2 separate regions of the Homo sapiens genome follow, and region 2 is linked to region 1. The links come from fine-mapping of genetic effects on plasma protein levels. Region 1 holds a variant in brackets. A gene starts in the other region. All regions are shown on their forward strands.

Region 1 (5,381 bases):
AGGTCAGTGAAATGCAAAGCAGTGATCAAATAAGAAGTTTCTTAAACAATGTTATTGTTCATCTAACCTACTACAAATAAGTCGAATAAATTATGTAGATGATTGACTCAGGTTTCTTGGAATCCATTATGAGAAAAAAAATTGGTTTTCAAACTTTTCATTAAAAACAATTATAAAAATAAGTGACCCAAAATGCTTACTATAAGCTAAAATTAGATTTAGTGTGTTTCATCATCCAAAGATATAGGAAATAAATAGTGAGAGTCTTTCACTGGCTGATAATCCGGGGGGGTCTTAGGCCCAGGGACATCCATTCCAAGAACTCACAGGGACATTATTTAGAGTTTTCAGCTAGTAGAGGATCCAGACAGCATCTGAAAAGTTCTGACAATAAGAGTCTCTTGAGATTTGAGAAAGAGCCTGAAGCCTGTCCTCTGTGACCCAGCTCCCGCCAAATGGTACAGTCTGCTCATTCTACCAGAGAGCAAAAGACATCAAGAAAGAGGACTCAACACTCCATGCATGGTGCTGACCCTTCTCCAGGGCTGCTCCTCTGCTCACAAAACATACCACTTGCTAATAGAGAATGAAATAAAATAGCATGAGTTTTTCCTGACGATTCCCAAGGCCCATTCTTCTTAAGACTACAAGGAAGAACTTCGACATTTGGAATGAGATGATGAAATACCACAGAAATAGATCATCTGGGACAGAAGGCCGCCTAAAGTGCATCCTCACAAATAATAATAATAATAATGATGATAATGAGATAACATGTATTATCCACTATGTATCCACATTCTAGATATTAGCTTTAATTCTTAAAATAACACTATAATGTCAGTATTATGCTCACCATTTTATAAGTGAGGAAACTAACATTTAGAGAAATTGAATCCCTCCACATCACAGCTCTACGGAGAAAGATCTGGATGGGATCCAGGTACAAGTCATCAGTTGCAGTCCTTTGTAAGATGCGAACATGAAGTATGCGTAAGGGGTAGGAGCAGTGGAAGCACAGCTTTAGAGTCAGACAACTGGATTTGAATCCTAGTTCCAAATCTCACTAGCTGTGTGAGCTTGGGTAAGTTACTTAACTTCTCCAAACTTTGGTTTCCATACATCTTAAATACAAATAATAATGCCTGCTTCATAGGGTTGCTATAAACATTAAAGGAATACTCCATAAGCATTCACTTTTCACCTCTCCATGTCTTCTCTTTTCTCATAAAAGTTTGCATAGCATAATACCTCCTTTGTGGAGTTACAGTGAGCACAAAAGAAGTAGGATAAAAAGAGAGAGATATTAGTTACATGGGAGATAGTATTATTTTAAGAAGAAACCACTTTCTTTGTAAAGTGACATTTTGGTGCAATTATGTTTTAAATGTATATTCTAAAAGGAAAAGGATATGATTCCATCAAAAATTAAAAACAGGCATGGATGGGATGGGCTGTTTAATGCACCTGTAGGTTATGAAACCAAATAATTGTTGATGTCAGAATAATAACCTCTCCAGCACAGAGACAATAGCAACAACCAATAATTGAGGATACAGTGTTCCAAAAAAGTCACCAACTCACCCCAGTTTGCCAGGGATTTAATTGATTTGAGCACAAAGTGTCCCTTGTTCCAAAAGATCCCCATCAGTCCCAGGCAGATCTGGTTGACTGGTCACACTAAGTGTGCTAAGCATTCATCTGGGTTTTTTGCTTACTCTATCTCTCATTTTCACAAAAACTCTGTGAAACAGGCTGCCCTGACAGAGGCAGTACCCCCCCACCCCCAAATGGAATACCTTGTTTCTCTATAAAAACAGTTGTCATTACAAATAAAGTCAGCAAATCACCTCAAAGCAGATGCTTTTTGTTCTGTAAGAATCTCTTAGCTATGCAGCTATAGAGTAAGTAGGTCCACTCATCCTCTTGAGTTGAGCTGCATGAAATTTTTAAATTCTCACCCTTTGGAGTGGAGCCGCTCACAAGGAGGAAGGAGACAAGGTAATACTGCATTATTGAGCTGACAAAGGCTGGAACAGTCTGGATCCAGCCATCCTGGACCAGTGTCTGCCCCAGGAAGTGGCTGTGGATGTGACCTATAAGGAGCTGTAGCAGCCAGAGTACAGGCCTAACAGGTGTGAAGAGCCTTCTACAGCATGCAGGATCCTGGACAACAAAGCCCCTTCCCTCAAAGCATGGCTGCAAAGGGCTCTGCCTCTGCACCTGCTATAGCAGCTGGAACAGAGGACCTGCTTCCCACTGTGGTCTAGGCCTGATTATCAGGGCAGCCATACCAGCACAGGCCATCCAGCCACCATCCAGCTGGAAAGTCGCAGCAGCCTACCCAATTCCTGAGTCACTTCCCACTCTTAG[C/T]AGTGCCATTGTTATGGCATGCTCTTCACATATGGGTGGCCCAGTCTCCCGTGAAAGAGGCAGGATGAAGGAATGGATGGGACTTTAAACTGCATGGCTCTAATCCTAAAAAGAGAGAACATCCAACCCAAAACCAACACTATCTCCAGGAAAAGACACCATCCATCTACCTGAGTTTACTATGTGAGCCAGAGACCTCCCCCAGCCCATGCTTTAGCCTGACAGACCAGCCCACTCTCTTTTGCCATAAACAGCTGTCAGAAACAAGACTATGCTAGACAGGACTCCTTCCCTCAAGGGAGATGGCTGGGGCAGCCTTTGAAAGGAATCGCCTCCTGATTTTCCACCACCACAGCAGGTGAGTTCCCAGTTATTAGCTTCTGAGGATGAACAGGGCATGTTATAAGCATTCCAAGCTGTGAGAGATAATGTGGGTGTTCTCTGCATCTTACCCAGAGAAGTAAACTGACTGGCCAAACGTCACACAGCCTCTAAGGCTAAGTAAGGATGTAAATTCAAGTCTAAGTCTACGCAGGACACTCTGCCATTCCAGCCTGCCTTCCCAAGACACCACAGAAGACGATGAAACAGTTAACCAAGTATTTAAAGGGAAGGAGAAAATTTCCCCCTTAACATGGAAAATTAAACCCTACTGAGTGATGAGAAATCAATCCTGAAAATTCCTCCTGAAAGCACATTTGTGGATATGCCAAAGCTATGGACATAATGACTCTCACTCTTCTGCTAGCTACAGAGCAAAGAGTGGTCTCCTCCCCAGACAAAGAGACACAAAAGCATAGAGACTGGTAGTATTTGGAGTGTTAAGAAAGCCAGTTAAGCCCTTCTGTGAGATAACTCATAGAAATGCTATCCAAGAATCCAAAAAGAAAACATGCCTTTTGGAAACTCTTTGAAATCAAGCTGTAAAACCCGTAAATATCAGAGTCAGATCTTCTAATACAACCTAAGGGGATTCTGACTTGAAGAAATGGCTCAGGTTATATTTAAAGGTTTTATTTTATTTAAGATCAAGAGGAGACCAAAGATAGGTGAAGAACTGATTTTTGGTCATCTGAAGATAAACAGAAAGTCACTTAATGACACTCAGACATTTGCATTGCTGTCAATCTTTTCTCCATATGATGTATACCATTTTACTTAGAATAGTGATCAATTAGTAATTTTGATTCTGTGTTCATGTAATAAAGGATTTTATTTTGACAGTCGATATAAAGCACCTGTTGTAGCTATATTTTCATGTGACTGCTCCACTGGGAGTTGCTGCTTGCTTGCATCACAGCCCAGGTACCACCTGCTCTTGTAGCTGACCCAAATCGTGGAGGTAAAGCCTAGCAAGAGATAACCTCAGCCTCACACACTCAAATCTATAGAGTGATAGAACAGCTGAAACATACAATCCCTTTGTTGTTTTCCTTAGCTCTCCTTTCTTTGATGTCATTCTTGATCATTTATTTTCCCATGTCTTTCCCTCATGCTCCACTGCATGGCTATCAATGCTTGGAAAATGTTACGTTGAAAATAAACTCATTTATCAAGTTGCTAGTTTTACAGGCAGCTCCATCTATATCATGTATGCTCAATTACTTAAGCATACAGTAATTGACATCTTAAGCATCCTTAAGACAATGCAGTACTTCTGTACTGACACAGTGCAGATTCTGCTCAGCATTCCCCTGTCTCTTAGACTTCCTTCCCATATCGGATTTGCACAATTCATCCCAACACTTGCTGAAAACTTTTCTAGTACTGACATTTTCAACTCTTGTTTACATTGGCAATTACACAATCAAAGCAGCCTCAACAGCAAAAATCTACCACAAGAGCTGGAGACATTTAAGAACAGTATTACTGATTGCTAAATTCTAATGCATATATTTTAAAAGTGTATTTATAAGTTAAGTGCTTTGGTTATCATGTTTCTCCATTACAAAAGTGCCAAAGAAACAAGAAGTAATTTCTCACACAATATTTATTTCATAACTGAGTTAAATAAGTATTGTTTTGAGTGGAAACTCAATAACCTTGTTAGAAATTCTGAGGGAGCTGCAGATTCATGACAATGAATAGTTAATTGTCCAATTATTCAGTAAAGCTCAAACACTTAATAACACAACGGACAGAATAAGTCAGAAAGGCAAGAAGCTTGGGGTGAAACCCAGCTTTGCTGGAGCTGGTGCTTGCATTACCAGATGGTGTGCCTATGCACATACGAAAACAGAAAGACAAACAGCAAGGAGGCAAATGGAAACAGATGACTTCCTATTAGTCCTCTGTTGAGCCTTCATCAACCTGACTTCCTTATTTGATTTGAAGTGGTGTGTCCTCCCAAATCACTGAACAAGCCCATTCAAATGCATGCAGAAGTATCAAAGGGGAACGAAGTATGTAAAGTTTTCTATTGTTAGTCACTTTGGAAAACTTCTCATAAATTAGTACTGCTGGAGCAATTAATTGAACTCCAAATGTATTATTTCTTACCCACTTTTAACTTTCCTTAACTAGAGCTCTCAATAGTGCTGTCAATTATTTTTAATTTTTGATAGAGATTAGACAATATATTCTATTATTTTGATGTGCCTTTAATTGTGTGATTAAAATACTGGTGAAAACCAATTACTTAACTAGAAACCTGATATTTTAGGGTCGTTTAAACCCTATACCAATATGATAGTACTTTAAGTTTATTTTTTGCAGAATATGTTCTAGAACTCAGAACTTTTAGTCTTGGTAAAGTTGTTTTGTTTTGTTTTTAACTAAGCTTTTGTATTTCTCAAATATTTAGTCCCCTACAACAAATTTAGGTCTAGCCACCCCAACAAAGTATCATGCAACCTCTTTGAACCATCTAAGATAATCTATTTTAAATTGCATCTCAAATACCATGACCCATCAAAGTCATAGTTCAGTGAACAAATCTAATACATTCTCAATAAATCACTTATATAAGGTATATTCAATGAATTTTGATTTATTTCTTTACAAAACAA
Region 2 (5,331 bases), not on the chromosome of region 1:
TAAAAATATCAAAAAATAACAAGAGACTTTGAAAAGAACATTCAAACAACAAAATAGATTTTGTAAATTAAAAATACCATTACATAAATAAAAACTTCAGTGGAATATTAGGAAAATAAAAAAGTGCCTTTGAGCACTTTGAAAACTTTGCAGACGACCAAGGCTGCATGCAACCTGAAGTTACAGACAACACAGAACTTTTCATATTCTACAATAAATGTTTCCAATTAAATTCTAGATGTCATGCTATAGATAAAACTGTAAAATATCCAGGACTTTCCGTCCAGAAGTTCACAATTTTATAAACAAAAAAAAAATTAAAGGACATACTCACCTGAATATTCTATAACTGGTCTGAACAGTGCTTGCAGGAAAATTCATGCATTTGGCTCAGGAGTTGGGTGTCCCCTGGGCTTTCTGGATAACAGATGTTATTCTCTGAGATTTCCACAGTCTAGCAAATTCCAAATGCCTCTATAAATAATAAGCCTTGCTTTTTGGAGGCCAATGTATTATAGGATCCTTAAATCCCCTCCCTTATTAGGTTTCTGCAGTACAGAGGACCAATGAAAGGATTTACCCTTCCACCATTGTTTACATCAACTCAATTTCTAATCTCTGTAAATAGCCCTCTACAAACACCCTCTAGTTGTGGTTAGTGCTGGTTTATCTTGTCATTTATTTATTTATTTATTTATTTATTTATTTATTTATTTAGAGAGGGAGTCACCCTCTGTCATCCAGGCTGGAGTGCAATGGCATGATCTCGGCTCACCACAACCTCTGCCTCCCAGGTTCAAGGGATTCTCCTGTCTCAGCCTCCCGAGTTGTTCAGATTACAGGCATGTGCCACCAGGCCCGGCTGATTTTGTATTTTTAGTAGAGGCAGAGTTTCACCATGTTGGCCAGGCTGGTCTCAGACTCCTGACCTCCAGTGATCTGCCCGCCTTGGCCTCCCAAAGTGCTGGAATCACAGGTGTGAGCCACCATGCCTGGCTTTTGTCATTGATTATTAAACAACACCCACGTGGCAAATTCATGTTTGATTTTTTGGGGCCCCAAGTCTACTTTCATTTCTGCTCCCACATCTGATAGTATTTTTATATGATATTTGAATACATCATTCCATTCTTTGATAATTTCTGCCCTTTCTTCACTGAAATCTAGGATCTGCTACCATCTCACCTGGCTCATCGACATGTAAATCCCTTCAGTACTGATCAATTTCTACCAGTCTTTAGATTTGAAGACCAAAATGCTAATGACCATGATGGATGGTTTTGGAAAAAGACAAGTAGAGCCTCAATGTCTGGCACCTATGGCTGATTTAATTTTAAACTCAGGGAAATGAAATAGGTACTGTGCATAAAAAATATTCAGGTGATTTTATTTAAAGCATTTTTACTAAATTCAAACTAATCAAAAAAACCTTTATTTAAATGACAACTTATTTCAATAATTTTTAAATTTTCATTTTTAATCAATATATAAAAATTGCACATATGTATGACATACGATATAATATTTTGATACATGTATAAATTGTGCATTGATCAAATTAGGGTTTGACAACCTCAGGCTTCATAATTTATGAAATAGACCTCTGCCATTTAAAAACTTTATATCTAAACTTACCAACTAGTAATTAACTGAACATATCAAATAAGATATTATTTAAAAGAGCCTAAATTAATAAAATGTTTAAATACATTTTGAGCTTTAAAATACAATAAATAAATATGACTTATTTTAGAAAAATTTTTTTAAAAAATAGACAAAGGTGGATATAGACAAAAACATGTACAGAAAAATATCAAAAGGACTAAACCCCTTGGAGATTTTAATGGTAAAAGCTTGCTGATATTATTTTTAAAATTATCAACTTTTAAAAAAACATTTTATGGCCATTTGTTAATGAGCATAAGCTTCTACTGAAAATGAAATATTTGCTTCTATAAGAATATACTCTCAGATATTGTATGAGAATATACTGCAGCATTGTATGAGAGGCAAAAAACTAGAAGCCTTTGGAATATTCATCATGGGAGAATGGCTGGGCACATTAACGTACATTCACAGTAGGGAATATTCTGCAGCCATCACGTAAGTTAAGATCTAGATGTATTGATCTGAAGGGACATCTACAAAATATATATATTTTTTGAGCCGGAGTCTTGCTCTGTCGCCCAGGCTGGAGTGCAATGATGTGATCTTGGCTCACTGCAACCTCTGCCTCCCGGGTGCAAGTGATTCTCCTGCCTCGGTCTCCCACGTAGCTGGGATTACAGGCGCCCACCACCGCTCCCAGCTAATTTTTGTATTTTTAGTAGAGACAGGGTTTCGCCATGTCGGCCAAGCTGGTTTTGAACTCCTGACCTCAGGTGATCTGCCTGCCTCAGCCTCCCAAAGTGCTAGGATTACAGGTGTGAGCCACCGCACCCAGCCTACAAAATATTTTTTAATGAAAGAAGCAACTAACTAAAACTTTGTATAGTAGTTATGTTTTTATATTTTATATTCATATATGCAGTGATGCTCAATGGGAATTTTGCAAATCCAGGGGGCATGTGGCAATGGCTGAAGATATTTTTGGTTATCATGTCAGGGAGGTGCTAATGACATAGGGTTAAATCCTACAATGCACAACCTCCCTCAAAGAATTATCAACCCAAGATGTCAGTTGTGCTGAGCTTGAGAAACTCTGTCATAGGGAAAGGAAAAAAAGGATAAGCACCAAACTGCTAGCTTGTTCCTTATATATCTGTGCTGTTCAACTTATAATGTACATTTATTTTGACAACTGAAAATTATCCTATAAAAATAAGTTTATTGTGCTGGCAAAGACAATGATAGAGCAGAGGTGGCAGACTGTTCCCCAAGCCAACTGTTTCCAAAGGAGACCTGAGGGACTGGGTGTGAGTTGACAGTGGTGGGAGCTGGAAGCAGCAAGGGATGCGGGGACATCTGGGGAGCCTGGACCTGACCTTGGAGCTCACTCACACAATCTAAATAATCCCAGAGTGAGGCTGAGGTTTTCCTGAGTTGGATGAGGGCCTGCGAAAATTTCCTATTATTAGGCAAGCCTACTATGAGAGTGAGAAGCCTAAACTCAATTTCCATTTTATAGCCTGGAGTAAACCACTTCTGGTCAGGCAGCAGGGAATCATAACATATCAGAGCTGAATACCTCACTGGTTTGCTGAGGGGCAAGTTAGTAGGTGTTCCTCAGAAAGGATTTTGTGGTCAATTAAGACAGGGAAACTCTGGCTTAAACTGCAGGTAAATTAAATAAGAGGTCTTTACTGCAAGCCTAATCAGAGCCTTTATTATGCTAGTGTCCATCTCCAAAAGGGTGGTCATCAAATGCAGGCCCTCCCTGTCTTGACCAAGTCCTTTTTCTTGAGATCATGTCTTGAGACTTGGATGCCATGCAATACACTTTGGGAAATACTAACCTAGTTGAACGACAGTTTTACTGATGTAGAAATGGCGGCCCAAAGGATAAAAAGTAGCTGAACTAGCTGGTGGGGCTACTTTCCAGACCAATGCTTTTTTCTCCTGCCTAAGACCTTAACCACAGTTGCAAATTAACTACAGATCCTCAGAATTTTCGCCCAATTCAACTTGGAGGGGTTGCAGTGGAGGTGAGGGAGAAGGGAGTAACAGTGAAGCCATTCAAAGCAAAAACCACCTTTAAAGAAATTTTGGCCTTAGAATACAGGGTTTTTTTTTTTTTTTTTTTAATTGGTGGAGGGGGCACCCAGGAAGACCAGACGTGCTCCTGTGAAGCAACGCTCCACCACGTCCTTTTGAAAATACCGTAGCCTGCATGAGACAGGCGGGAGCACCTAAGCCTTCAACTCTCCCCATGTTGCCTCCAATTGACCTCACTGGGCCAGGAAAAGCCCTATAAACTGGTTTTGTATACTCTATCCAAGTAGTAAATTTACTAAAATTACTGGATCCTACTATATACCAGACCTCTGCAAGGCATTGAAGATTCAATGATGAGCATTAATTCCCACTCTAAGGGGATTTTTCTATCTGGTAGGGAAACTCAGATACCGCATGCAGCTAGCCTGTCACAGGGCTATACTGACTAAAGCTCACCCTAAGAAATTTGCACATCTTAGCCTATGGGCAACGGGAAGCCATGGACGGAATATGTTTTCCGTTTCAAACAAGGAACTCCAGTCACAGCAGGCTCTAACTCCATTTCCTATTATCAACTCCCCTTCCTGCTCCTCCTCCCTTAGTAGCCTCGAAAAAGAGTGGCCACTTCCTTCACATCACCAGGGCCTTGGTCCTGGTAGGGGGTCCCGCCCCCGGCCCTGTCCTCCTCCCCAGGCCGGGACCTCCGCGCCTCCCACACACAGTACAACTCTAACACGAAACTGGGCCAGGACTGCAGGTAGGTCCCGTCCAATGCGACACGCTCGCGACGGCCCACGCACTGCCAGAACCAGCCCTGCCACTAACCAGCCTAGTAAGGAACGCAGTGATCTTTAGGAGCCCACTTCTAAATTCAAATCATTTGGGGTTCAGTAAGTCTCTTCACAGACGGGGACCTAATAGCTTCCATTAGCAGCCTCCACGTTTGCTGAACACGACTACGGGGCCAGACCCACAGGAACTCCAATGTGGTTCAGCCGCTCAACTCCAGGGACCAAAAAGACTTTCCCACCTCCCAGCGTTATTAAAGGCAACCCCGCCCCCAAGCCTCAGCCACTACGCGGTGCAGAAAGAGGCAGAGCTGGGCATGCGCAATTTCCGCCCCCGCCACAGTCTTGGGAGTGGGCGGGCTCGAGGGCTGGGAGGAAGCCGAAAGCTGACCGAGAGGAGAAAGAAGCCCGCCCCCGGAAGTCCCTCCTGTCTCTGCAGCTTGTTCCCGGAAGTTTTGCTGCTAGTCGCGGACGCAATGGCTTCAAGGTTACTTCGCGGAGCTGGAACGCTGGCCGCGCAGGCCCTGAGGGCTCGCGGCCCCAGTGGCGCGGCCGCGATGCGCTCCATGGCATCTGGAGGTACTCGGGTCTCCGGGCGTGCCAGGGACCAGAGTGTTGCCCTCCCAGGGTGGTCCCAGGGCGGCAAAGCGGCGCGGCTCGTGCAGCTTCTCGAGGTCCCAGTGGCCGCTTTACGGTCCCCAGTGCCTCAGGCTCTGCAGGCATCTCCCTGTAATTCTGGACCGCTGCTCCTGCCGCTCCCCGAACTCACTCCGCTGCGAAAGTATCCTAAACGGAGGTGCCGGGTGACCTTGGGAGGGACCGGGGCTGCCACCGGGATGGGGAGGGGTCCGGCCTCCCTTCAAACCTGCGCCCACCTCAAGCAGAGTGG

Alleles and levels. Alleles are on the strand shown, and positions count from the first base shown. The strength of an association depends on the size of the effect and on how common the allele is.
As copies of C replace T in region 1, the plasma level of the protein whose gene starts at base 4,894 in region 2 goes up (weak association).

What was found. PIP is the posterior inclusion probability: the model's chance that the variant is causal. Protein levels are from antibody-based Olink assays in UK Biobank. Linkage for the fine-mapping came from a reference panel and not from the study's own genotypes, which makes the PIPs less certain.
Region 2: it holds the start of COX5B, and the variant in region 1 is fine-mapped to the plasma level of the COX5B protein (UK Biobank, PIP above 0.99).

The regions. Positions count from the first base shown.
Region 1 is chr4:47,646,773-47,652,153 of GRCh38, forward strand. All of the region lies in intron 13 of CORIN (corin, serine peptidase), which reads right to left. Among named protein-coding and RNA genes, the nearest start is that of MIR8053, 3.2 kb to the right of the region's middle. RefSeq lists an enhancer at 4,413-4,956. The variant C/T (reference allele first, on the strand shown) is at 2,374.
Region 2 is chr2:97,641,169-97,646,499 of GRCh38, forward strand. COX5B (cytochrome c oxidase subunit 5B) reads left to right here and starts at 4,894. Exons shown (of 4, transcript NM_001862.3): 1 at 4,894-5,021. The coding sequence starts at 4,919. RefSeq lists enhancers at 3,852-4,786, 4,589-4,638, 4,819-4,998.